Regions from separate parts of the Homo sapiens genome. Here regions 2 and 3 are each linked to region 1. Evidence: fine-mapped expression QTL. A gene starts in region 1. Each other region holds a variant in brackets. All regions are shown on one strand. Distances are from middle to middle.

Region 1 (8,163 bases):
TTTTTCCTTTGTCCCATAACTGTATCAGTCTGTTCTTATGCTGCTAATAAAGACATACCCAAGACTGGGCAATTTATAAAGGAAAGAGGTTTAATTGACTCACAGTTCAGCATGGCTAGGGAGGCCTCACAATCATGGTGGAAGGCAAAGGAGGAGCAAAGTCACGTCTTACATGGCAGCAGGCAAGAAAGCTTATGCAGGAAAACTCCTACTTATAAAACCATTGGCTCTCATGAGACTTATTCACTACCAGGAGAACAGTATGGGGGAATTTGACCTCATGATTCAATTATCTCCACCTGGTCCCACCCTTGACATGTGGGGATTATTACAATTTAACCTGAGATTTAGTTGGGATCACAGTGAAACCATATCAATAGCAATCCTTTTTTCTCAGTTGAATAATATTTGAGAAGAGTTACAAGTGAAATGAAACAAATTCCAAACCTACCTCTCCAACTACCATCCCATGTGTCAACCCCTCTCCATGGTTAAGATTCTTGAAAAAGTCTCCTTATTCAGCTTCTGCATTCTCCATGTTTACTTCTTAATTCCATATGGTAAGTCTCCCATTCACAACATAGCAAGGCAAAATTTTGTTTGCTACAGGTTTCAACACCACCTTGAAGCCAGCTAAAAAAGTCTATTCCTTTTGATTTATGACATCTCTTCAGTCATATCTTCTCATTCCTACATTAAATATCCCCCAATTTCTTCAATTATTCCTTATGACATAGTTTGTAGCTACTTTGAAAACCTGAGGCTCTCAGCTGAATGTGTTCTAATTTGTCTTTTAACATATGTCTCTAACTCTCTTAACATATAATGTTCAGTATTATTCAGAAATAAGAAGAAATAAAGTACTGGTGGATGCTACATGGATGAACCCTGAAAACTTTATGCTAACTGAAGGCAGCCAGTCACAAAATACTGTACACTATATGATTCCTTTTATATAAAATGTCAGAATAGGCAAATCTAAAGAGACAGAAATTAGATTAGCGGTTGTCTAGATCTGGGGAAAGATAAAGGATTGGAGATGATGGCTAAGGAATGCAGAGCTTCTTTTTGTGGTGATGAAAATATTCTACAATTGATTGTAATCATGGTTGCACAACTCTGTGAATATACTGAAAGCCACTGAAGTGTACACTTTAAATAGGCAAATTCTATGGCATATGACTTATATCTCAAAAAAGCTTGAACCCGAGGGAAAAAAAAAAAAAAGCTGTTAAAAAACAAACATGATGTTGAAAAGAAAAAACAGTATTCTGAAGTAGAGTGCTTTAACCTCTATAATTTCAATTTCACTCTGTATAAAAGAGATAAATAAATAATATCTGCTTCATCTCCTTGACAAGGTTGAATCATATTTTGCAACATCATAATTACATAAGTTATTAGCTTGAGTGACTCTCACCACCTCACATTTGGATTACTAACACAATTCACTTGCTGGTACCCATTTGTTTTACATGTAGTGGTAAGAGGGTTTTTTTATTTCTTTGCTTTTTAACATCTAGTACCCAACTCAGGAAAGAATGTAAGGAGCACTTTGTACCCACTGTATCAAGTCCAACCCTTCACCTTAGCATTTAAAGCTGTCTTCCAACTTTGTCCCATACATCCCATCATTCTTCACACCAACTTTGTCCCACACATCCTATCATTCTTCACAACCAAACAACTTTCAGTTATAAAACCATTGTTTTCTCTTTCACGTATCTTGCATATTAACTGTTTAGCTGGTTATTCCCCTCAAACAAAATATACCCTATTATGGCCTGAATGTCTCCAAAGCCCTAACCCACAATACGATGGTATTTGGAGATGGAACCTTTGGGAGGTAATTAGATTTGGATGAGGTCTTGAGAGTGGGGCCTTTAAGACAGGGCCTTTATAAGAAGAGGAGAGACCAGACTGCTTTCAAGCTCTCTCTCTCTTGCTCTGCCATGTGAGGACGCAGCAAGAAAGAGGCCATCTGCAAGGCAGCAGCAGAACCCTCACTGAGGAACTGAATAAACTGGCACCTTAATCTTAGGTTTACCAGCTTCCAGAACGGTGAGAAATATATTCCTATTGTTTCAGCCACTCAGGCTATGGTATTTTTAGGGCAGCCTGAACTAATACATACTTCTTTAAACTCCCCACCAATATCCTGTTATCATTTCCTTCAAACGTTTTTTCAAAACTTTCTTATCTTAGAATTTCCCCCCATACTGATCAGTTCATTACTCTGCATTCTCTTAGGAATTGTGCTACATATAAATCTAATTTGCTGTTCTTATTCGTTTATGTATCACATTTTAACTCACCTATTTGACTAACTTCAAAGGATGGAAGTAATGTTACCTATTTGACAAACTTCTGTTACACATACTTCATTTCTCCGAAACACAAGTTTTGTAGTCATTTCTACCAATATTCAGCCAGCACTGCTTCTTCTTTTGCTGAAACTGTTGGTTCCACACTCTGGTCCGAACTTAATAGGAAAGACTCACCATAAAAGATAATTAAGAATGGCTAATACACAGTGTGTTGAAATTTGATTTCCTTAAGTTTAATTCCAGAGTTCTGATACACATTAGCATTTAGAGTGCCTAGAATTACAGTGTAGAAGGTGACTAAGTACATTTAAAGATTGTTCCTTTTTGTTGTTATATTACAAAAGATTATAGTTGAGGCAGATCTTGAAATTGCATCTCATCAGCCCAGCAGGTGGTGTGACTCCCATAGGAGAACAGGAAAGGACATGTCCCATAAGGAGGCAACTCAGTCTCTGCTAGCTCACAAGCGTGGTCTCAGTGACCTACTCGAAAGCTATTCTGCTTGTATCATCAGTTCAGCCTCACCTTGGAAAACTCAAGCCCAGTTTTCCCAAATGATTTTTAGAGAATAAGATTTCCAGATGAAAACCAGGGAGCATGTTCCAATTTTTAGTACATCAAGGACCATGTTTTTCCTTGCTACCAGCCCCATTTTCTAATCAGTTAACGCTTCCTGTGATATCTGTAGGGGAAAGGTGTAGTGCAACTGACAGGGAGAGATGAGATCTTAAGCCTCTGCTCATTCATTGGGTGCTGAGTAGCAATGCCTCCCGCGGGCCACAGGAACTTATCTCCGCCGATTGTTACAGCTGGAAGGATGGGGAGATAGCACCATAGATCCACTCCTCATTTTATGGGCAAAGAAGCTAAGGCCTGTAAAAATGGCATGCCCAATGGTACAGGAGTTACAAACACGGTCATAAATATTGGCTCCAAATTTGGCATGGAAGCTTATGTGCTGCTCTAGAGGAGATCTGCTACGATGTGGAGATTGGCTTGTGTGGGTGTGTTTTATTGCTCTTGTCATTTAAAAATACTTTTGATTATTTGTCTTCCATTTTTTTTAGGTTACGAGGAAATCCTTCAAAATGCGTTCTTGTGAAAAACGTGAGAGTGCAAGGAAAGAGGGAGGGATAGGAAGAAGGAAAGAGAAGCAAAAGGTAGGAAGAAAGTGACCTTGGTGCCCTTTTCTAGTCCCCTCCCCCGACTTTCCTGTTCTCCACTGTGCCCATCTCTGGTTTCACCAGGCTCCATTCCTTCCCCAGTTCCCTGTTTCTCACGGCCCTGAAACCAGCCGACAGGGATTTGCATTTTGAAAAACCTTGCGTGGCTGCCGGCGCTGGGCATGCTCAAACGCCCAGAACTGGCTTTTTTCGGCAACTTTGGCAGCTCTCCCACCCCCACCCGAAGGGGCAGGTACGCACAGCTCCCTCCGTGTGAGTAAACGGAAAGAAATTACCCCACTCCCGCCCAGGGCAGAAGGCCACAGCCCCGCGGGGCAGTGGCGCGCCCCGGGGACGCTGCCAGGGGGCGCCAGGCCCTCAGTGGTGGCGCGGCGCCGGGGTCCGGGGCCGGGGGGCGCTGTCCGAGGGCACGTGCGCGGGCGCGCGCTCTGGGAGTGGTCGCGGGGTGGTGGGAGGGGCGGGCAGGGGCGGGGCCGCGGCGGCGCGCGGAGGCCGAGCTCGGCTGGGCTTGGCGAGGCTGCGGCGCGGCCACCGGCGGGAGTGCAGCGGCCACTGTACCCAGAGATTCAAAACCCCAAACCCGGGACTTGGGGGCGCTGAGCCGGGCCGGGAAGCAGAGCCTGGTCGTGAGGAACAGCCGCCCGTTGCTGTCTGCCCCTTTGCGGACAGCGTCTCCCTCGACTCCGCTTAGGAAGTGGTGGGGGCGGCGTGGCCCCCGTCGGGAGGCGTTCGAACGCCCGCTAGGAGAGAGAAAGGATTCCCCTGTGCTTGGAGCCCGCACTCGGGCGCGGAGGGAGCGGCGGCAGGCTCTCGCTTTCGGCACCATGGGCTGCACGCTGAGCGCCGAGGACAAGGCGGCGGTGGAGCGGAGTAAGATGATCGACCGCAACCTCCGTGAGGACGGCGAGAAGGCGGCGCGCGAGGTCAAGCTGCTGCTGCTCGGTAAGGGCGGCCGGGTCGGGGCCCGGGGGTCGGCGGGGGACCGGGTGCGGCGCTGCGCGGCCCTCGGCGTTTGGAAACCCGGAGGGAAGGGGGAGGAAGCGCCCGAGGAGGCTTCTGAGCGGGAGCTGGGTCCGGCGGTGCGGAGGCAAGGCGGGTCCCCCTCTCCCGGTGTCTGGTCTCTCTCCGCCCCGGCGGGCGAGGACTCCCCGCGGCGGGGCGGGCGCGTCACTTCACTCGGATGCTTTCGTGCGACCCAGCAAAGAGCCCAGGCGCGAGTCCGAGGCGGCGGGTCGCGTGGAAACCCTTTGCTTTGAAGTTTAGCTCAGCCTTGTAAAGATGAAGGGGCATTCGCGGCTAGAAAATGAAAACACCCCCCCCCCCGCGCCACCAACCCCCTCCCGGAAAACCCTTCTTCGTGTGCGGTGTAGGTTGTGTTTCGACTGTGGTTTTCTCATGCCCAGAGTGCCACGTTTGGTGAAATCAGTGCACCTTTTGTGGGGCCTCTGAGATGGGGCTGAAGCGTCTTTCCTGTTAACTTCCTATGGCGACTCCTTAAGTGGTCAAGGAGCGCTGATTACATTCCCCCTGCGCTGAGAAAAGGCTGCGCTGGATGCTTGATTTTTCTTGCTGTGGGGGCATGGAAGCCACCCAAGTGGGGTTGGGAAGCTTTGCTTTAGTAGTAGGCAAGGCAGATACTCGAGTGGTGAAAACTGCTGTGAAAGAGCGAGAGGGTCACGCCAGACAACAGGGTTCTGTCTCCGCTGCCACCGTTTCTGATGAATGAGATTTGCCAGGTACACGCAAGGCTTTTATTTGTTCTTAGCACTGTTCTGTTCGTGAAACGCTACGTGGAGGTCTTTTCCAAATGTTTGACGGGGAAGAAAATAAAGAGTAAACCAGGGTTTTCACTGAGGGAAGCATTAGGAAAATCTTTACAGGTTAAGATTCGTGAGTTAGGGTTTTCTTTTGTTTGCATGTTTTCTTCTCACACTCTAGGTATTTAGATAGATGAAAAATTTCTCAGAATCTTCATTTGCATTTCCAAGGACTGCTTGTATTTTTATACCAGTTATAATAAAAAAGAAATGTTGCACAAACCTGTTTTCAGTAAGCTTCTGTTTCATTGGTTTAATGACTGCAGAAAAAATGGTGGGTTTTTTTTCTCCATTACTAGTAGGCTTGGGAGCAGCAAAGTTGGCATGACTAAAAGTAATAATGATCTGAGTCATTTTGCAAGTAAACTGTGAAATAACTTTGCATTTTAAAGACCTGGGTGGCTTTTTTCACCCTGTCGCCCCCAACATAAATCTTTCTCAGTTAATGTTGTTTGCCTAAGTTTTTACATTAATAAGAAATACTGTGTTTTGATGAGGTTAGTGTATGTACTTCTCTTGTGAATTGAATGTGAGATAGATATGAAATAAGAGGATTAAGAAGTTTTTTTCTTGCAGTTTTTGCTCTCCTGGTGTGATACGTTGTTTCAGTGTATTTCTGTGTGACTCTTAGTTTGAGCCAGCCATCCACCATGTTTAAAGCAATTGAAAAATGAATCATCTGGTGGTGGTGTTTTGTCCTTTAATTAGGTGACTGTTAGGGATGGACTAGAATAAAGGTCCCAGGAGTAGGCTTTTGCTTATGTTCAGAAGAGATCAGTGTGTCTTGATCTTAGCACGGTTGGCATTTGGGGCTGGGTAATTCTTTGTTCTCCAGGTTGTTTTTGTGCATTGTAGGATGTTCAGCAGCATCTTTGGCCTCCGCTCATTGGATGCTAGTAGCAGCCCCCTAACCTGTGAGCTCCAAAAGTGTTTCCACATATTGCTAGAAGTCCTCTGGGGGCAAAATACAGCGTTAGTTAAGGACCACTGTTCTAGATTAAGACTTAAATATAACTGAATGTATAATACAGAACCAGAAGTTGAATCTTGACAGTCATCATAAGTGAGTTCAGAGAAAGATGTAGCAGAGGCCTCATTTTCAGAAGAAATTATGGAATTCTTATTTCTTTTTCTTTTTTCTTTTTTTTTTTTTCTTTTCTTTTCTTTTTTTTTTTTTTTTTTTTTGAGACGGAGTCTTGCGCAGTCGCCCAGGCTGGAGTGCAGTGGCCCGATCTCGGCTCACTGCAACCTTCACCTCCTGGGTTCAAGCGATTCTCCAGCCTCAGCCTCCCGAGTACCCGGGACTACAGGTGCGTGCCACCATGCTCGGCTAATTTTGTATTTTTAGTAGAGACCGGGTTTCACCATGTTGGCCACGCTGGTCTCCAATTCCTGACCTCAGGTGATCCGCCCGCCTCAGCCTCCCGAAGTTCTGGGATTACAGGCGTGAGCCACCTTGCCCGGCCAGAATTCTTATTTCTCTAAACCAGTACTGGTACCATTGGAAATATTTCAGAATGATTTTTAGAAATCTTTAAGTGACTGAATTCTTTTGGCTGTCTTTTCTAGCTTTGGTCTTTTGCTTTTCCCTACCTCTCTCCTCTCTGGAAATCCTGGCTGTCCCTGCTGGCCCAGCACTCTCCTCTGTCTTATCCCCGTTCTAGTCTACCCTTTTGCCCAGAGTTCCATCACCCTAGTCCTGTAAACAGAATTCTGGCTTACTTATTCCAGAAATTCAATTCTTGGAATGTTCGAAAACATTGTTTTCCTAATTTGACTTTAGTAGTAAATTGTGACCTTTTGGTTCTTTTTTGAATCCTTAAAGCATATGTGTAAGCAGCTAAATGAAATAATTCCATGTAAAACACGGCAGTAGAATAAACTAGAAATGTAAAATCGTTTCTAGGTAACGTATAACCAGTGTCACAGCCATTTACATTAGATCGTGTTCATCTTCACTTATTCTGTTTTTCTCATCACATGATGTTTTTTAAATTTAAGGCATAAAATCTCTAAAGTACTTTTAAGACAGTCTGTTAAATATATTGCATTTTTTTCTTAAGGAATGTATTGTCATTTTAAACAGCTGGGCTGAGTAATTTAGATATGAGACTTGCACACTATTAGTAAAGATTTTGGCACTGTCTATATGATTTAAATCAGAGGTATTTCACTATACTGAGCAGTGAATTAGGCCTTAAAAAAAGAGGAGCTAGTCTAATCATTGACACTAAGGAAATCAGGCCAGAGTTTGGGTTGTTTGTCTTTTAGGTTTAGTTTTTATGCTTATTAGGATGATAATACTTAATAGAGAAACATTTTAAAGAAGTAAGTAATAATGAAAGTTTTTTATATAATAATGTCTAATTGTTGAGGAAATTATTTTTTATTGTTATATCTTTGAGAATGTTTTAATTTATCATCCTTTTAAGGGCAGTAAGATTAAGCTTATGCTTTATTTCGGTAGGTAACTATAGTATACTACTTGTACTTATGAAATATTATTTTATTATGTATTTGGAGGACATAAGATTTGACATACAAATAAATGATCATGAATTTATTTTCTGTTCCAAAGCTTTGAGCAGTATTCTCATTTATTCCACCTCACTGTCCTTCCTTCCGCTCCACTCCCCCTCATATACAAAATTCCACACCCTTGTCTCCTTCTTCAGCTTGGTTTAAATATTCCAGGTTTGGGGGAAAATGAGCTGAGGGATTGGATTTCTTCTGTTTGGTGGATATTTTTCTATTGCTGCCACCAGGCAGCCCTTTGGGATGCTGCATCATTAATCTTCACTCCTTTTGAACTTGCCCTGTGACTTCCCCTAGTTG
Region 2 (8,188 bases), 28 kb before region 1:
ATAGATTTATTTCTGGTCTCTCAATTATATTCCATTAGTCTATATGTCTATTCTTGTGCCAGCACACTGTTTAATTACCATTGCTTTGCAGCGAGTTTTGAAATTGGAAAATGTGAATCTGCTTACTTTGCTCTTCATTTTTTAAAATTATTTTGGCTATTCTGGGTTTCTTGCAATTTCATATGAAATTTAGAATCAGCTTGTCAATTTCTGCAAAAAGTTTGTTGTTATTCTGTTAAGAATTGCATTGATTCTGTAGATAAGTTTGGGAAGTACTGCTATCTTAACAATACTGCTATCTTAATAAATAATTGCTATCTTAACAATAAATAATAATGAATAACAAACATTCATTGTCATCTTTATTATATATCCAAATAATACATAATCCAATAATCCAAACAATAAGTAAACCTTGCAACCCATAAGTTTAGGTTTTTTAAAATTTCTTTCAACTCTATTTCATAGTTTTCAAAATATACATTTAGCACTTCTGTTATTTATTTCTAAGAATTTTATTTTTTTGATACTAGAGTAAGTGGAATTATTTTCTCAATTTCATTTGCAGGTGGTTAATTGCTAGTATATAGAAATAAAATAGATCTTTTTATATTAATCTTGTATACTACAACCTTGTTTATTATTTGCTCTTGTAAACGTGTAATAGTTTTTAGTGGGCTTTTTAGTATTTACTATATATATACAACATCATGTCATCTGCAAAGAGAACTAGTTTTACTTCTTCTTTTCCAGTGTGGATGCTTTTCTTTTTCTTGCCTACTTGCCATGGCTTGACTCTCTAGTGCAATACTGCCTAAAAGTGGTGAGAGCAGACATCCTTTCTTGTTATTTTGCATGGTGTTGACTGTGAGATTTTTGTAGCTGCCCTTTATCAGGTTTAGGAAATTGTCTCTATCAAGAATACTTGACTGGAGCTCTCCATTCTTCTGATCCACTGTGGACAGGTTGCTCTCTAGGAAAGCCACACAGCAGTTGTCCTGGAATTTCCCTTTATTGTCATCCTTAAAATTTTACTGATATTTTTCTAGAATTGATCATTTTTGCTGAATACTACCTCTGTCTTTCTTAATTTACTTCCTTATTTGTTCAAGTATATCCTCCAATAGCTTCCCATGAATTAGTAACTGACATATATTTCTGCATTTCTAAAAATGACTTTAATTTATTCTCATCATTGATTGATAATTTGGCTATCAAATTATTCATCAAATATCATTTTCATCAATAATTTTGAAGACATTGCTCCAAGGTCTTCTATCTTTCATTATAGCTTTTGAGAAGGCTAATGCAATTTGGATTTCCTGTCTCTTGTAGGTGACCTTTGTTATTTTCTCTAGAAGCTTTTTCTTCTTGATGCTCGTTATTTTGAAATGTCACATTTTATGTGATTTGTGAGGTCTGCCTTTATTTTTTTATGGGCCACTTGTGCTGGACACCTACAATTTGGAGATTCATGTCTTTCTAAAAATTGTTTTTTACAGTTCTTGATAGTTAATCTATTTTGTTTTTTCTTTTCTCTATATATTTTATATAAAATAGTTGCTGAACCTCACGAATTTTTCCTTTCTTTTCTATGTTTACTATTTTCACATTTTGTGTGTGTCTGTGTGTGTGTGTGTGTGTGTGTGTGTGTGTGTGTGTGTTAAGTTTTGGTCCTTGGCTTTATCTTTCAGTCCTTTTATAATGTTATTTATTTCTATCATAGTTTTATTCTCTTTTCTTTCCTTTCCATAGCATCCTACTCTTGTAATATCTCATTGAGAATATTAGATTATTTTCAAATTTTAAAAACTATTTCCTGTATTGTCAGTTTCCAATGGGTATCTTTGTTTTTGTATTTGTTATGGTAGCTCTTTTTTATTACTTTATTGTTTTAATATTGTTTTAGTGAGGTTTGCAGAGGCAGAAAAATACTGTGTGATCAGTCATTTTTTTAAAAAAAAATATACTGGGTTAAATAGTATCCCCATATAATACATGTCTCCTGAGAACCCATGAATGTGGCCTTATTTGGAAATTGCAGAGGTAATCAACTTAAAATGAGTTCATACTGGAGTAGAGTGAGCTCTGAATCTAATATGACTGGTGCCATTATAAAAAGAAGGTAGGCCAGGCACAGTGGCTCATGCCTGCAATCCCTTTGGGAGGCCAAGGCAGGTAGACCACTTGAGCCCAGGAGTTTGAGACTAGCCTGAGCAACATAGGGAGACCTTGTCTCTACTACAAAAAAAAAATCGGCCAGGCCTGGGCATGGTGGCATGCATCTATAGTCTCAGCTACTCAGGAGGCTGCGACAGGAGGACTGCTTCAGCCCAGGAGGTTGAGGCTACAGTAAGCTGTATCATGCCACTGCACTCCAGAGCCTATGTGGCAGAGCAAGACAAAGACAAAGAAGAAGAAGAGGAGGAAGAGGAAGAGGAAGGTGGCAAAGAGGAGGGATATTGGAACACAGAGATAGATACACACACAGGAGAAATGGAAGGAATGTGAAGACAGAGGCAGAGGTTGGAGTGATACGTCAACAAGCCTAGGAACACCGAAGGTTGACGGCAATCACCAGAAGCTAGAAGAGATAAGGAAGGATCCTGCCCTAGAGCCTCAGAGGAAACATGGCCCTGCTGTCATCTTGATTTCAGGCTCCTGTCCCCAAGAACTGTGAGAAAATAACTTCCTGTCATTATAAGTTACCTGGTTTTTGTACTTTGTTAAGGCAATCTTAGGAAACAAATATCCTCTTCCTCATTAAAGTTGGATGTAGAATTTAGCAGGAACAGAAATATTAACTTGCTTTTTTAAAAAATGTCTCAGATTAGTTCCTTTTAAACCTTCCTTTTTTGAGAAAGAGAAAACTGACACAATCCAGAGTCTAGCACCTCTTCCCTATAATCATTACCAATGTTGTAAAAGTTTGGCTGCCTCTCCCTGTTCAGTGGTTTCTCCTGGCCTGTTCAGTTCAAGCAACACTAGCAGTATTTTCCACCCAATGACATGTGAGTAGAATAAAACAGTTCTTCCTATGGTGATAATTGAAAATAAAATTATAGTTTTATATATTTAACTAATTAGAAGTTTAGCTAATGACTGCTTTTCATATATAATTTTAGGGTCTGGGCAGTTTGACGGCTTTTTTTTCTAAATCAGATTGGCATTCATTTTTCTTTTATGTCTAAGAATTTGTTCAGCTCTGCTACTAATTTTACTTAAATATTTTTGTTTCAAGACTAGTGAGAGATAGAAGGAGATGTAGGAAACG[A/C]AAAAGAAAGCCAAAAAAAGAAAGTTTAAGAAGGAAATACTCAACTGTCTAGCAAATGCCACATAATCCAAGTTAAATATTACCTAGAAACTGTTTTATGTGGAGGGAGTTAATGTCATCTTTGGTGTCTTAAATACTGTCAGAGGCCAAATTGCAGCAGGCTCATGATTGCATTGGAAGTGAAGAAATGGATATGTTTAGAGTGCTCTACCCTTTCAAGAAGTTTTGTTTCAAAAGGAAGGAAACAGGGGCAGTTATAATACTTTCAGAACAGAAGTGACTAAGAGTGCTTACACTCAGAAAACAAAGGGTCTGAAAGAGCCAGTGGAGCTGAGGAAGTTGAAAATATAGGACAAAAGGAAAGATAGAGATGAGATAAAGAGATGGAGTGATAGCAATAAAGAGTTAGAGAGCTGATAGAGAGAAAGGAAGAGGGGAGAGAGAAAATTGGTAGAGAGATTATCTTGAGCAGGAGGGTGTACAAATATCCAGAGAACAACATTGATTAGCATCAGTTTTGGACATAAGCACAGCCCCTGAGACTAGAAAGAGAAATAACTGATGTGGACGCAGCTTTGTTTTCATGGAGTTAAGTGAGGAGGGACAGGAAATTGAGAACTCTTGACTTTCTGTGGAATTAGAAGGCAAAATCATGTGCTGAGTGCATTTATAGAAAGAAACTAAATAAGCTAAAATCATTATTTTACCTTGAAGTCAAGGTAGCAATAAAATGACAAAATAAGCAAGTGCTCTAAGAGCTCTCTTTAAAACAACATGGAAAGAGAATCATTGAGTAACATCGAGTGTCCTAAACACATGGCTTCTTAGTAGGCCATTAACAGAATTTATGGATTTCACACAGCCCATCCATCTTCTATTTTTAGTTCATTTACAAAACAATAAATGACAGGTACAGACTGTGGTTTCAGATGCTAAGAGACTGGTAAGTTCTGCTATTTTATCTCTGAAGGCTGTAAGTATCCTGTTTTGGTTGGAAAAAAAAATAGTGCTTCCTCTAAAAGACATCCATTGAGGATGTGGCTTTTTGAGGTACAGTTTTGCTTTTATTTGCCTAAGTGCTTGCTCTTCAGAGTGTAAGAAAAAGCTGCATGGAAATTATATTTGACTTCATCTGGTCACACTGTCTTATTCCAGAAAAAAATTAGTACAAGAAGTATGTAGCTCCTGTAGATAAAAGTTCCTGATATAAATTTCTAAATTCAGTAAAATACAGATAAGTTACTTACTGAAGTATTTTATATCAAACTGCTTATTTAGAAAAGAAAGTGCTTTCATCACCTAAGCATATAATTTATTCAATCGTCTCAATTAAAGGAATGCATTCATAATTGAACATGGCACAAATGTTTGCTAGAATACTAAGAGACACGCAGAATAAGACTCTTGTTTACAAAAAATAAAATGTATAGAGACATTTGTAAAACACAAACATTCCAGGAAGAATTGAAAAAGTATTTTTATAAGTATTGCTGTTTCTATTTATCCTTGCTTTTGCTATGTATATAAGTGTATTCTAGACAAAAAGGGAGAGTAATGGCATAGGTACAATTTTTGTATTCAGCTTAGGCACATAGCTACTTGTAGCTGGCTCCATTTCCAAGTGAAATCATACAGTAATTGGTATGAGCCAATCCAAACTTGGATAAAAACTCTGTCTATTTCTAGCAAGTTAATCAATCCTACCATTATGCTGAACCACTTTGTGATGCTTTTCTTCCTGTCCATTGGGTTACTGTGAAAAAGCAAAGTTGCATTAAATGTGGTATCTGTCTTCTTGGCTTTTACTTTTTCTGCCAATGATTATTTCTGAATGGATTTTAGTTTTGCAAATTATAGCACAATGTCAGGGTCAAGAATGATAAGATGAAAAATATAGAATTATGGAAATGATCCTAGCAACACACAAAAACTTTTATTGTACGTATGCAAATGAGACTGCTTTAACTTAAAAATCAAATAGAAATTGAGCATTCTGATTACCATAGAAATAGAAGAACTGAGTTATTTAAGTGCCCATTTTCTTAAAATAGCAGGGTAATATCAAGGCATTTTGATGTTTGTTGGGAGCTGGAAGAAGCAGTATGTGGGCTGAAAGACCTTATATACTTCATTCAACATATTAATTGATAATAAAACATTACTTTCATGATATTTTATAATTTTCATTTTATACTAGATTGTTTTTCTTTAAAAATAGAAAATACAACAAGTTATTTTTAAACTGTTACATAATAGAAAATTTCTTTTAAGTATCCAATAATTAAACCAAGTGGAAAGTAACAAATATTTATAGTAATAAATCGTTTGTAACCATACAAGAGTACATACACATTGGACATCAATGTTATTGTTCATGAATTCTTGACTACTTTCCATATTTAAAAATATTTTCACAAACGTGGTATGCAAACTGAGTTTAGCGTTCACAGCCAAGAAAACTAGATAAGCCATAAATGTATCACTTATGTTAACACAGTTGTACATACCTAAATACCTGATAATAACGCACATCAAGTGATTAACTTACTGGTTTGTAATAATTTGGGTATACTCTGTTTTTAAAACAGAAAGCTCATTTTGATGGTCCTACATTCCTAGGCAATGCTGGGCCCACAGATTACCCCTGAGAGCACATCAATATATATTACCAAGGATACTTATCAAAATTTGTATGTTTTTGATACATTCATAAAACATTCCAAATTATTAGCATTTTGGTTTGTCTTCTAGAGCCTTCTTATTCAAATGCATCCCTGAATCAGCAGTATCCACGACTCCTGGGAGCTTGTCAGAAATACAGACTCTCAGGCCCCACCTCAGCCTTGCTGAATTGTGATTTACATTTTAACAAGATCCCCAGCCCAGGTGATTTGTGTGCACATTAAGAGTTTGAGCAGAGATGCTCAAGGAATTAAAAACCTAGTATATTGGAAGTTTTAAAGGTTTTCAGGTGGCGTAGGAAATAAATAAATTCCAAAGAAAGGCAGCCCAAATCATATTCAACTTTTTCACATCTTAAATTCTCTTTAGAATCTATATGTTGCAATTTGGCCATTGAGTGAGTCAGTTAAACGAACAGGCACAGTTCAGGATTTTGTAGAAATAAGAGACTTTATTATAAAGTACTGTAGTTTGGAAAATTTTTTTGAAAATAGAAAAAGATATGAAAGGATGATTAGCAATATGTTTTCTGGTTAATTTCTTCAGCATTTTAAATCACAGTTTCAATAATATTCAATCTGTCACTGAATCAAAGGCAAAAATCCCTAAATAATGAAGTGATTAAGCACTCCATTCACTTTCATTGCATTAATTGAAAATATTTCCAAAGCTAAAGAAGTTGTAATGCAATGGAAAGTACACAGGACTTGGTCCTATTTCAAAAATTGTCTAAATGTATGTTCTGGAAGTTTTCCCACCATCAGGTATTGCGTTCTGTATAAACATTTTTTGAATAAATGAATTAGTGAGAAATCAGAGACAAAGGCTATTCTTTCTAGAATGTACTGTAACAGGAAAAGATAGAAGGCAATATTCCAAAGGAATATGTATTCAAAATATTTTTGACTGTTTATTAATCCAGAGAGCCCATTTGTTATTTTAAAATAAGAATTGCATTATCGGCCGGGCACGGTGGCTCACGTCTGTAACCCCAGTACTTTGGGAGGCCGAGGTGCGTGGATCACCTGAGGTCAGGAGTTTGAGACCAGCCTGGCCAACATGGTGAAACCCTGTCTCTACTAAAAATACGAAAATTTGCAGGGCATGGTGACAGGCGCCTGTAATCCCAGCTACTCGGGAGGCTGAGGCAGGAGAATCGCTTGAACCTGGAAGGTGGGGGTTTCAGTGAGCCGAGATCGTGCCATTGCACTCCAGCCTGGGGAACAAGAGGAAGATTTTGTCTCAAAAAAAAAAAAAAAAAAAAAAGAATTGCGTTATCAAGAAGAAAGGATACTCATGTTTGCTAATCAGCACATTCTCTTCCTGGGGAAAATATGTGTCAGAAGCAATGTTATAATCAGAAAGTTACTGTGAACCCAAAACATTAGATGGATGATTATAATGGCTACTGCCATCATGCCTGAAAAACTGATAAATAGCTTTTTGCCTTAAGATTACACTAAACCCACAGAATAGATGCTTGTCTTTGCGAGTTCAGGGCACCTCTTCATGTGGTCAGTTATAGAGATATTTTGTTACTATTTGCCCTTCTGATTCTTGTTTCTTTCTTTTGGAAAAAACTGCTTGGAATGAAAGCAAGAACGGATTAAAGGAGGCCAATTAGGAGCCAATTGCGTGTGTGTCTGTGTGTGTGCATGTGTGTGCATACAAGTGACCTCAAGTAAAATTTGGCTTGGACAATCTTCATTTACTCCTGTTTAGCATTTGTCCAGGATTTTTTATTTTTATCAAAGTATTTGTATCAATATTTGCATTAAAATAATCAGAGATGAGTTAGATCTACTCTTTGTATTCCCAGCTTGTCAGTTGGTCAGGCGCATGGTTATATATTTAAAACAATATGCAATAGCTACCTTTTCTAGAGCCTTTCCATATTTAGTAAAACTAACATCTCCCTTTCAAACAGCATATAGTATGCTCACTGAGAAAACCAAGTACATTTGGAAGTGAGTGGCTAAGACAGTCAACTCTTTGCAGTTTCAGGTGGTGATGGGAGAAGTTTTGAAGCCGCAGCCTCTGCCAGACACTTGGTAAACTAGCCAGCTCTGTCATGGCAAATACCACAGACTGGACAATGCACGAAATTACCAGTCAACAGTCAGCAGGGTCAACAGGAAATACGGCAAATGAAAGGTTAGCTATATATGATATTTCTACTGTATAATGTAGAGAATATAATCTCTTGGTACAGTAATTTGGTCATTTATTGTA
Region 3 (8,188 bases), 190 kb after region 1:
ATTCTGAAAACTAAAGTTTCCAATTTTTCTCCCAGCCTCCTGACTTGGAGTTACTAAGAAATAAAACTGCTCTTTTCTGAAGCTGGGTGATTTAATATAAACTTTGAAGAAATCACTGCAATAGATCATGTACGGGCAAACCTTGTGCCTGCTTCTGTGTGAGCCACTCAGAAAGTTCATCAGAACTCCTGATGCCATCACCAAAGACATTCAAAACACAGACAAGGACATCTGTGGGACTGCCACTTTCGTCCTTGAGAAAAACATTTAGAAATTTTCTCAATTGGCTGGTCCCTGGACTCAAACGAAGTTTCCAACTACTTATCCTTGTTTTACTTTAATTTTCATAGAAATTCCTTTCATTGTATTCCTGACTGTTAGCACTATTCAGCAAATATCCTCTACTAGCAGCTTCCAAGAGATGGTTCAGCTAATCCTTAATGAATAAAAGGCAACCAAAAAAGAAATGCACTTACATTGTTCCAAGGAAAGAAGAATGTATCTTCTTCCCTTTAACAAGAGGAAGAACTGACATTGATTTTTCCCTGGACCAAATTTTAGTCGGCTGCTGTGAGCCCCACTAGGCCTTGTCCTTGGGAATATCCTCCAAGAGCCTAATTTTAGCAAGAATTCTGCTAAGTAAGTTCACCAGAACCCCCCACCCTTGATATCTAGTTACCCTCTAATCTGACCAAACTCTTCGTCCATACCATCCCTGAGTTGATGTCTGATCCCCTGGCCTGCCTTCAGCAAGAATCATAATAGGTGGGTTCAGCCAAAATCTATCTTTACCTCTGATGTGTTCCTCTTAATAATTTTCCATCTACCAACTACACGCTCTTTAACCATAAATTCCCACTTTTCCTTGTATTCATAATTTTGCCCAATTCTATACTGAGATATCTTTTCCCCTGTTGAAGTAGTTTCCAAGTAAATCCTGTTTTTACCACCTTAACTATTGTTAGGGTCTCATTTTTCTTTGACAAAGGGAACCAGCTGTACAGAGAGTCTAAGGAGAGAGATTCTTTAGGACTCTTTGGAAGAAATAATTTTGTTATGTAAAAGTAAAGTGGGGTGAAGAGTGGGAAATCTTGTGTTTCTGTTTTAGAAAAAAAAATTTCTGACTTTAGAATATATATTTTCTATTAGGTAGTCTGCTGTCTTGTATTTGGTTGATAACTTTGGTATTGGTTGTTTTAAACTAGAAATAAGATATGCCATGTAATTTTTTGCTTCTGAATTTATTTGTTAAAATTGATTCAACTATTGTCTCTGTGCAGGAGAAACAATGTAAATGGATTAAATGTTTTTTGAGGCACTGAAAAATGGTCATTGAGCCAATATATTAGTAAGATGGTGAGATGGTAATGGCATTGAGCTAGATCTTGGTGATAGAGTTCTGTGATTAATATAACCGCAATGGAAACACAGAAGCTAGTTTACAGATGGGTAGCAGAGGACACATACTTATAGAAAAATTCAATGGCAATTTGCCAACATCAAAGTCCAGGTACAGAATGACAATTATCCAATTAAGAAAGTATGTAGACAATGTTGGATCCATGTGAATGTTTCTAATGTTCGTGGCATTTGGATTGATGCCAGTGGAATTTGGCCCAGTAGGAACCAAGACTACGATTCAAGGAAATGATGTCTTAGGAGGATGAAATTGCAAAGGTAAAAGCCCCAGACAATTAGGCACCCTCATTCACAATGGGGACTTTCAGATATTTCCTAAATTTGCAGGAAAACAGGAAAGCTACTTTTCAAGAAGGGCAACATCCATGAGGATTTTATGTTGTATATCTTAGGTTAGCAGCATCTATTTAGCAATGGAGGCCTCTTTGGGTTATTGATTTATTTATTTTTATAATTTCTTATATAAATGAAAACAGAGAACATTTAGATTCTGTTTTCCAAATTATGTAACCCTCCTCCTGAAGCTTGGTACTGAGAAAAGCCATGACCCTACTTTTTCCCCATAATTAAAATCTGGCTCTAATTAAGTAAAAAGTAAAGCATTCTTTAATATGATTGCCTTAGTACCCTTAAGGCATTTCAGATTACTTAACACTAACGGTAAGACATAGATCTTGCTTGTAATACTAATGGTAAGACATGGATCTTGCTTGTGATCTTGCAGTTTGCTTGGACAAATTTTTTTTTTTTAATCTTCATCTTGTGAGGCCTCGGCAGGTTTTAATGAACATTTCTAATTCATACAGTTTGTCTCTTTTAACTACCTTCTGTAAACATCTGTAGCAGCTGGCAACTTTTTACACACTGAAAACACAGAAAAGGGGCTGGGTGCAGTGGCTCGTGCCTGTAATCCCAGCACTTTGGATTGCTTGAGCCCAGGGGTTTGAAACCAACCTGGGCAATATAGTGAGACCCCTGTCTCTACAAAAATTTTTTAAAAAATCAGGGCCGGGCATGGTGGCTCATGCCTGTAATGCCAGCATTTTGGGAGGCTGAGGTGAGCAGATCACTTGAACACAGGAGTTCAAGACCAGTCTGGGCAATACAGCCAAACCCCATCTTTACCAAATAAATAAATAAATAATAATAAGCCAGGTGTGGTGGTGCATGCCTGTAGTCCCAGCTACCAGAGAGGCTGAAGTGAGAGGGTCACCTGGGCCTGGAAGGTCAAGGCTTCAGTGAGCCATGATCATGCCACTGCACTCCATTCTGGACAATAGAGTGAGATCCTGTCTCAAAAAAAAAAAAAATTAGCTGGGCATGGTGGCACCTACTTGAGAGGCTGAGGCTGGAGGATCACTTGAGCCTGGGAGATCAAGGTAGTGCATCATTATTGTGCCACTGCACTCCAATCTGGGTGATAGAGTGAGATCCTGCATTGAAAAAGAAAAGAAAGAAAGAAAGAAAGAAAGAAAGAAAGGGAAAACTTTTGTTGTTAACGTTATATATATTGCACAAATAATATACATTCATTAGAAAAAATTAGAAAATAAAGCAAAAGAAGAAAACTCATCTATAATCAAAACACTGAGACAAGTAACTAATACCTTTTTGATGTGGAGTCTTCATACTTCTCATACATACATAACTACAAAATATGCACATATTTTAATTGTAAGTTGGAACAAAATCTGCTTTCATATAACTCAATCCTTTATCATGAACACATTTCCATTCCTTTTTGATATGTAAGTCTTCATTCTCAGTAATACACAGAATTCAAATAGTGGATTTATTACTTTTTTCACTTAAGCATCTATTAATGAATATTAGAGTTGTTCTTAATTTTTCACTAATGAAAGAACTCTACAATGACTATTCTCTTGAATATATCCTTGCCAACATGTGCAATTATTTCCTTATGATATAGTACTAGAAGTAGAATTTTTTGATCAAATTTTAAACGTTTTTTTGTTTATGCTATGAAATTACCTTTTAGAAATTTTGTACCGACTTCAATTCTAAAGAATGTTGGGGGAAACGACATAAAACATCTTACAGATCTAGGGCAAGTACGAAGATCTAAAAGAACTATCTCTTTGCAAAACATTATGCATTTTGATGTGTACTGTACATTAAATCAACTTTTTTTAATTCAAACATGCAAAAATTTACAGTTCTTTCAGATAAACTGCTCTCTCCTCTTCAACATTTGGCATAACAAGTACTTTGTGCAAATACTCTTCAAATTTTGAATGAAAGGGAAGAATCACAAATATGCTTTCTAAAAACCATTACTTCGAAGAAGAAATCAACCCCACAGAAATACAATCATAAGAGAATACTATAAACACCTCTATGCAAATAAACTGGAAAATCTAGAAGAAATGGATAAATTCCTGGACACATACACCCTTCCAAGACTGAACCAGGAAGAAGTCGAATCCCTGAATAGACCAATAACAAGTTCTGAAATTGAGGCAGTACTAAATAGCCTACCAACCAAAAGAAGCCCAGGACCAGATGGATTTACAGCTGAATTCTACCAGAGGTACAAAGAGGAGCTGGTATCATTTCTTTTGAAACTACTCTAAACAATTAAAAAGGGTGGACTCCTCCCTAACATTTTGAGGCCAGCATTATCCTAATACCAAAACCTGGCAGGGATACAATGAAACTTCAGGCCAATATCCCTAATGATCATTGATGTGAAAATCCTCAATAAAATACTGGCAAACAGAATCCACCAGCACATCAAAAGCTCATCTACCACGATCAAGTTGGCTTCAACCCGGGCTGCCAGGCTGGTTCAACATAAGCCAATCGATAAATATAAATCATCACATACATAGAACTAAAGACAAAAACCATGTGATTATCTCAATAGTCACAGAAAGGCCTTCAATAAAATTCAACATCTCTTCATGTTTAAAACTCTCAATAAACCAGGTATTGAAGGAACATACTTCAAAATAATGAAAGCTATTTATGACAAACCCACAGCCAATATCATATCGAATGGGCAAAAGCCAAAAGCATTCCCCTTGAAAACTGGCACAAGACAAGGATGCCCTCTCTCACTACTCTTATTCAACATATTATTGGAAGTTCTGGCTAGGGCAATCAGGCAAGAGAAAGAAATAAAGGGTATTCAAATAGGAAGAGAGGAAGTCAAATTGTCTTTGTTTACAGACGACATGATCCTATATCTAAAGAACCCCATTGTCTCAGCGCAAAAGCTTCTTAAGCTGATAAGCAACTTCAGCAAATTCTCAGGATATAAAATCAATGTGC[A/G]GAAATCACAAGCATTCCTTTACACGACAACAGACAAGCAGAGAGCCAAATCATGAATAAACTCCAATTTACAATTGCCTCAAAGACAATAAAATACAGAGGAATACAGCTAACAAGGGAAGTGAAGGCCTTTCCAAGGAGAACTACAAGGTGCTGCTCAAGGAAATCAGATAAAACACAGCAGATGGAAAAACATTCCATGCTCATGGATAGGAAGAATTAATACTTTGAAAATGGCCATACTTCCCAAAGCAATTTATAGATTCAATGCTATTCCCATTAAATTAACACTGACATTCTCCACAGAATTAGAAAAAAACTATTTACTAATTCATATGGAACCAAAAAAAGATTCATATAGCCAGGACAATCCTAAGAAAAAAGAACAAAGCTGGAGACATCACACTACCCAACTTCAAACTATACTACAGTGCTAAAGTAACCAAAACAGCATGGTGCTGGTACAAAAACAGGCACATAGACCAATGGAACAGAATAGAGAACTCAAAAATAAAACCACACATCTACAACCATCTGATCTTCTACAAACCTGACAAAAACAAGCAGTGGGAAAAGGAATCCCTATTTAACAAATGGTGCTGGGAAAAGTGGCTAGCCATCTGCAGAAAATTGAAACTGGACTCCTTCCTTATACCTTATACAAAAATGAACTCAAGGTGGATCAAAGACTTAAATGTAAAACCCAAAACTATAAAAACCCTAGAAAAAAATCTAGGCAATACCACTCAGGACATAGACATGGGGAAAGATTTTATTATGAAATCACCAAAAGCAATTGCAACAAAAGCAAAAATTGACAAATGGAATCTAAGTAAACTAAAGAGCTTCTGCAAAGCAAAAGAAACTATCAACAGAACGAACAGATAATCTACAGAATGAGAGAATATTTTTGTAATTTGTCCATCAGACAAAGGTCTAATATCCAGAATCTACAAGGAGCTTAAGCAAATTTACAAGAAAAAAATAAACAACCTCATTAAAAAGTGGGCAAAGGACATGAACAGACACTTTTCAAAGGAAGACATAAATGTGGCCAACAAACACATGAAAAAAATTTTAACATCACTGGTCATTAGAGAAATGCTAATCAAAACCACAGTAAGATACCATTTCACTCCAGTCAGAATGCCAATTATTAAAAAGTAAAGAAACAACAGATGCTGGAAAGGTTGAGGAGAAATAGGAACACTTTTACAGTGTTGGTGGGAATATAAATTAGTTCAACTATTGTGGAAGACGGTGTGGTGATTCCTCAATATTTTAGAACCAAAATACCATTTGACCCAGCAATCCCATTACTGGGTATATACCCAAAGGAATATAAATCTTCTATTATAAAGATACATGCATGTGTATGTTCATTGCAGCACTATTCCCAATAAAAATGACATAGAATCAACCTGAATGCCCATCAATGATAGACTGGATAAAGAAGATGTGGTACATACACACCATGGAATACTATGCAGCCATAAAAAGGAACAAGATCGGCCGGGCGCGGTGGCTCACGCTTGTAATCCCAGCACTTTGGGAGGCCGAGGCGGGCGGATCACGAGGTCAGGAGATCGAGACCATCCTGGCTAACACGGTGAAACCCCGTCTCTACTAAAAATACAAAAAAAATTAGCCGGGCGTGATGGTGGGCGCCTGTAGTCCCAGCTACTCGGGAGGCTGAGGCAGGAGAATGGCGTGAACCCGGGAGGCGGAGCTTGCAGTGAGCCGAGATTGCGCCACTGCACTCCCGCCTGGGCCACAGAGCGAGACTCCGTCTCAAAAAAAAAAAAAAAAAAAAAAAAAAGGAACAAGATCATGTCCCTTGCAGGAACATGGATGAATCTGGAAGCCATTAACCTCAGCAAATTAATGCAAGAACAGAAAACCAAACACCGCACGTTCTCACTTATAAGTGGGAGCTGAACAATGAAAACACATGGACACAGGGAGGGGAACAACACACAATGGAACCTGTTGTAGGAGGGCAGGGGGGCAGGGAGAGCATCAGGAAAAAGAGCTAATGCATTCTGGACTTAATACCTAGGTGATGGGATGATAGGTGCAGCAAACCACCATGACACATGTACAAACCTGCACATCCTGCACATGTACCCTGGAACTTAAAAAATAAAATAAAATAAAAAGAAGAAATAAGATTATACAGGACAAATTACTTGGAAACTTATTAAAATAAGGATACTTCAAAGAAAAAGCTATGAAATGCGACTAAAGTTATAGTTAGTTTTCAAATATACAAACCATTCAACTTAAGGAGTTAGGAAAAAACAATAAAAGAAAATTGCTATCAGTTAGAGACAACGTATGTTTTTGCTTCTAATTTAAATTAAAGCCAAGTAGAGAGTAACAATTTAATTGTTCCATATATATATAAATGAGAATTTATAAGTAAGGATTTAATAAATATAAAAGATAAAATGAATGAGGTATGAATGATCTAAAAAACAAAACCAATAGCATTTGTAAAGTTAACGTGAATAAAAAGAGCTGTTAGATGATTTTTAAAGAACGGGCTTGGCAGCCAATATTTATTTATGTTTGCCTGTTTCTGTGATATTTTTCTATATTGCAGAAAACAAAGGTCCTTCTACGACTAATGAAATTCAATATCAAGAACTGGAAACATCTGAAGTTTTACCCTTCTTGCAAGCTATCATGTTAGTCTGCCACTGCTTCATGGAAGCTGCCAGAAGACATGAGACTCTTAGGCTAGATATTAATGACTTTATTATTCAGAACAGCAAAAACCAGAGTATCAGCATTTGCATTGGTTCTGGAAGACACAAATCTACAGGATAATACAAAGAAGTCTGGGTAATACCTGCACACATAATGGGGTGGGGTACAAGAGAGGAATTCTAAACATAGGGTACCTGAATCTTTTAAAATGAGCAGTAATTCTATCTGGTCTTCACCCTAGAGAGAGACATTTTCTCTGTCATTTGCTATATAAACATCCTTCAAAAGATAATTTGAAATAAAGTCAGTGAGTGCCTTCATTTGCAAGATGTCCAGAAATGTGAGAGACCCATGGAAAACAGTCTCCTAGCAGAAAAAAAGAGAAGGAAGCACAATTAGTGAGTAAGCAGCTGATTTGTAGATTTGTAGGATTATAATAAAGCAGATTGAAATTTTTGCCTGCATTTTCCCAATATTATCCAGCTGAATCACCCACTTTGATGCTGAAGGCAGCTGAGGAAATAAGTAGTGGTTTCTTGCAATTCCTTACTTCCCAATTTCTTGAATCTAACAGATCTTTGCTGTCTCTTCCAAACCAGGTTTTCAAATTGTTTTGTAAGGTTATAGTTTGCTTTATTAATTTTTTCTGGCTTATTATATTTAGTGTGTCTTTCACTTTTCTGACCAAACTCTGGCTGATATGATAGATAATGTAAGGATGTGGTTCAGAAAACAGATTCTCGCAGATGGGAATCTGTGATTT

Alleles and levels. Positions count from the first base shown, and alleles are read on the strand shown. Sizes are in standard deviations (SD) of each study's normalised expression. Not every link is listed here.
As copies of A replace C in region 2, the expression in lymphoblastoid cells of the gene that starts at base 4,006 in region 1 goes up (moderate effect, 0.50 SD a copy in TwinsUK).

Evidence for each region. PIP is the estimated chance that this variant, and not a neighbour inherited with it, causes the effect. A credible set is the group of variants that fine-mapping cannot tell apart.
Region 2: its variant is the best candidate, but not a certain one, in a credible set for the expression of GNAI1 in lymphoblastoid cells (TwinsUK, PIP 0.66).
Region 3: its variant is the best candidate, but not a certain one, in a credible set for the expression of GNAI1 in left ventricle (GTEx, PIP 0.62).

What each region holds. Positions count from the first base shown.
Region 1 is chr7:80,130,826-80,138,988 of GRCh38, forward strand. GNAI1 (G protein subunit alpha i1) reads left to right here and starts at 4,006. Exons shown (of 8, transcript NM_002069.6): 1 at 4,006-4,453. The coding sequence starts at 4,336.
Region 2 is chr7:80,103,269-80,111,456 of GRCh38, forward strand. No RefSeq gene overlaps it. Among named protein-coding and RNA genes, the nearest start is that of GNAI1, 27 kb to the right of the region's middle. The variant A/C (reference allele first, on the strand shown) is at 3,275.
Region 3 is chr7:80,322,737-80,330,924 of GRCh38, forward strand. It overlaps LOC105375373 (a long non-coding RNA gene), which reads right to left. Exons shown (of 5, transcript XR_007060401.1): 5 at 7,457-7,791. Among named protein-coding and RNA genes, the nearest start is that of GNAT3, 190 kb to the right of the region's middle. The variant A/G (reference allele first, on the strand shown) is at 4,714.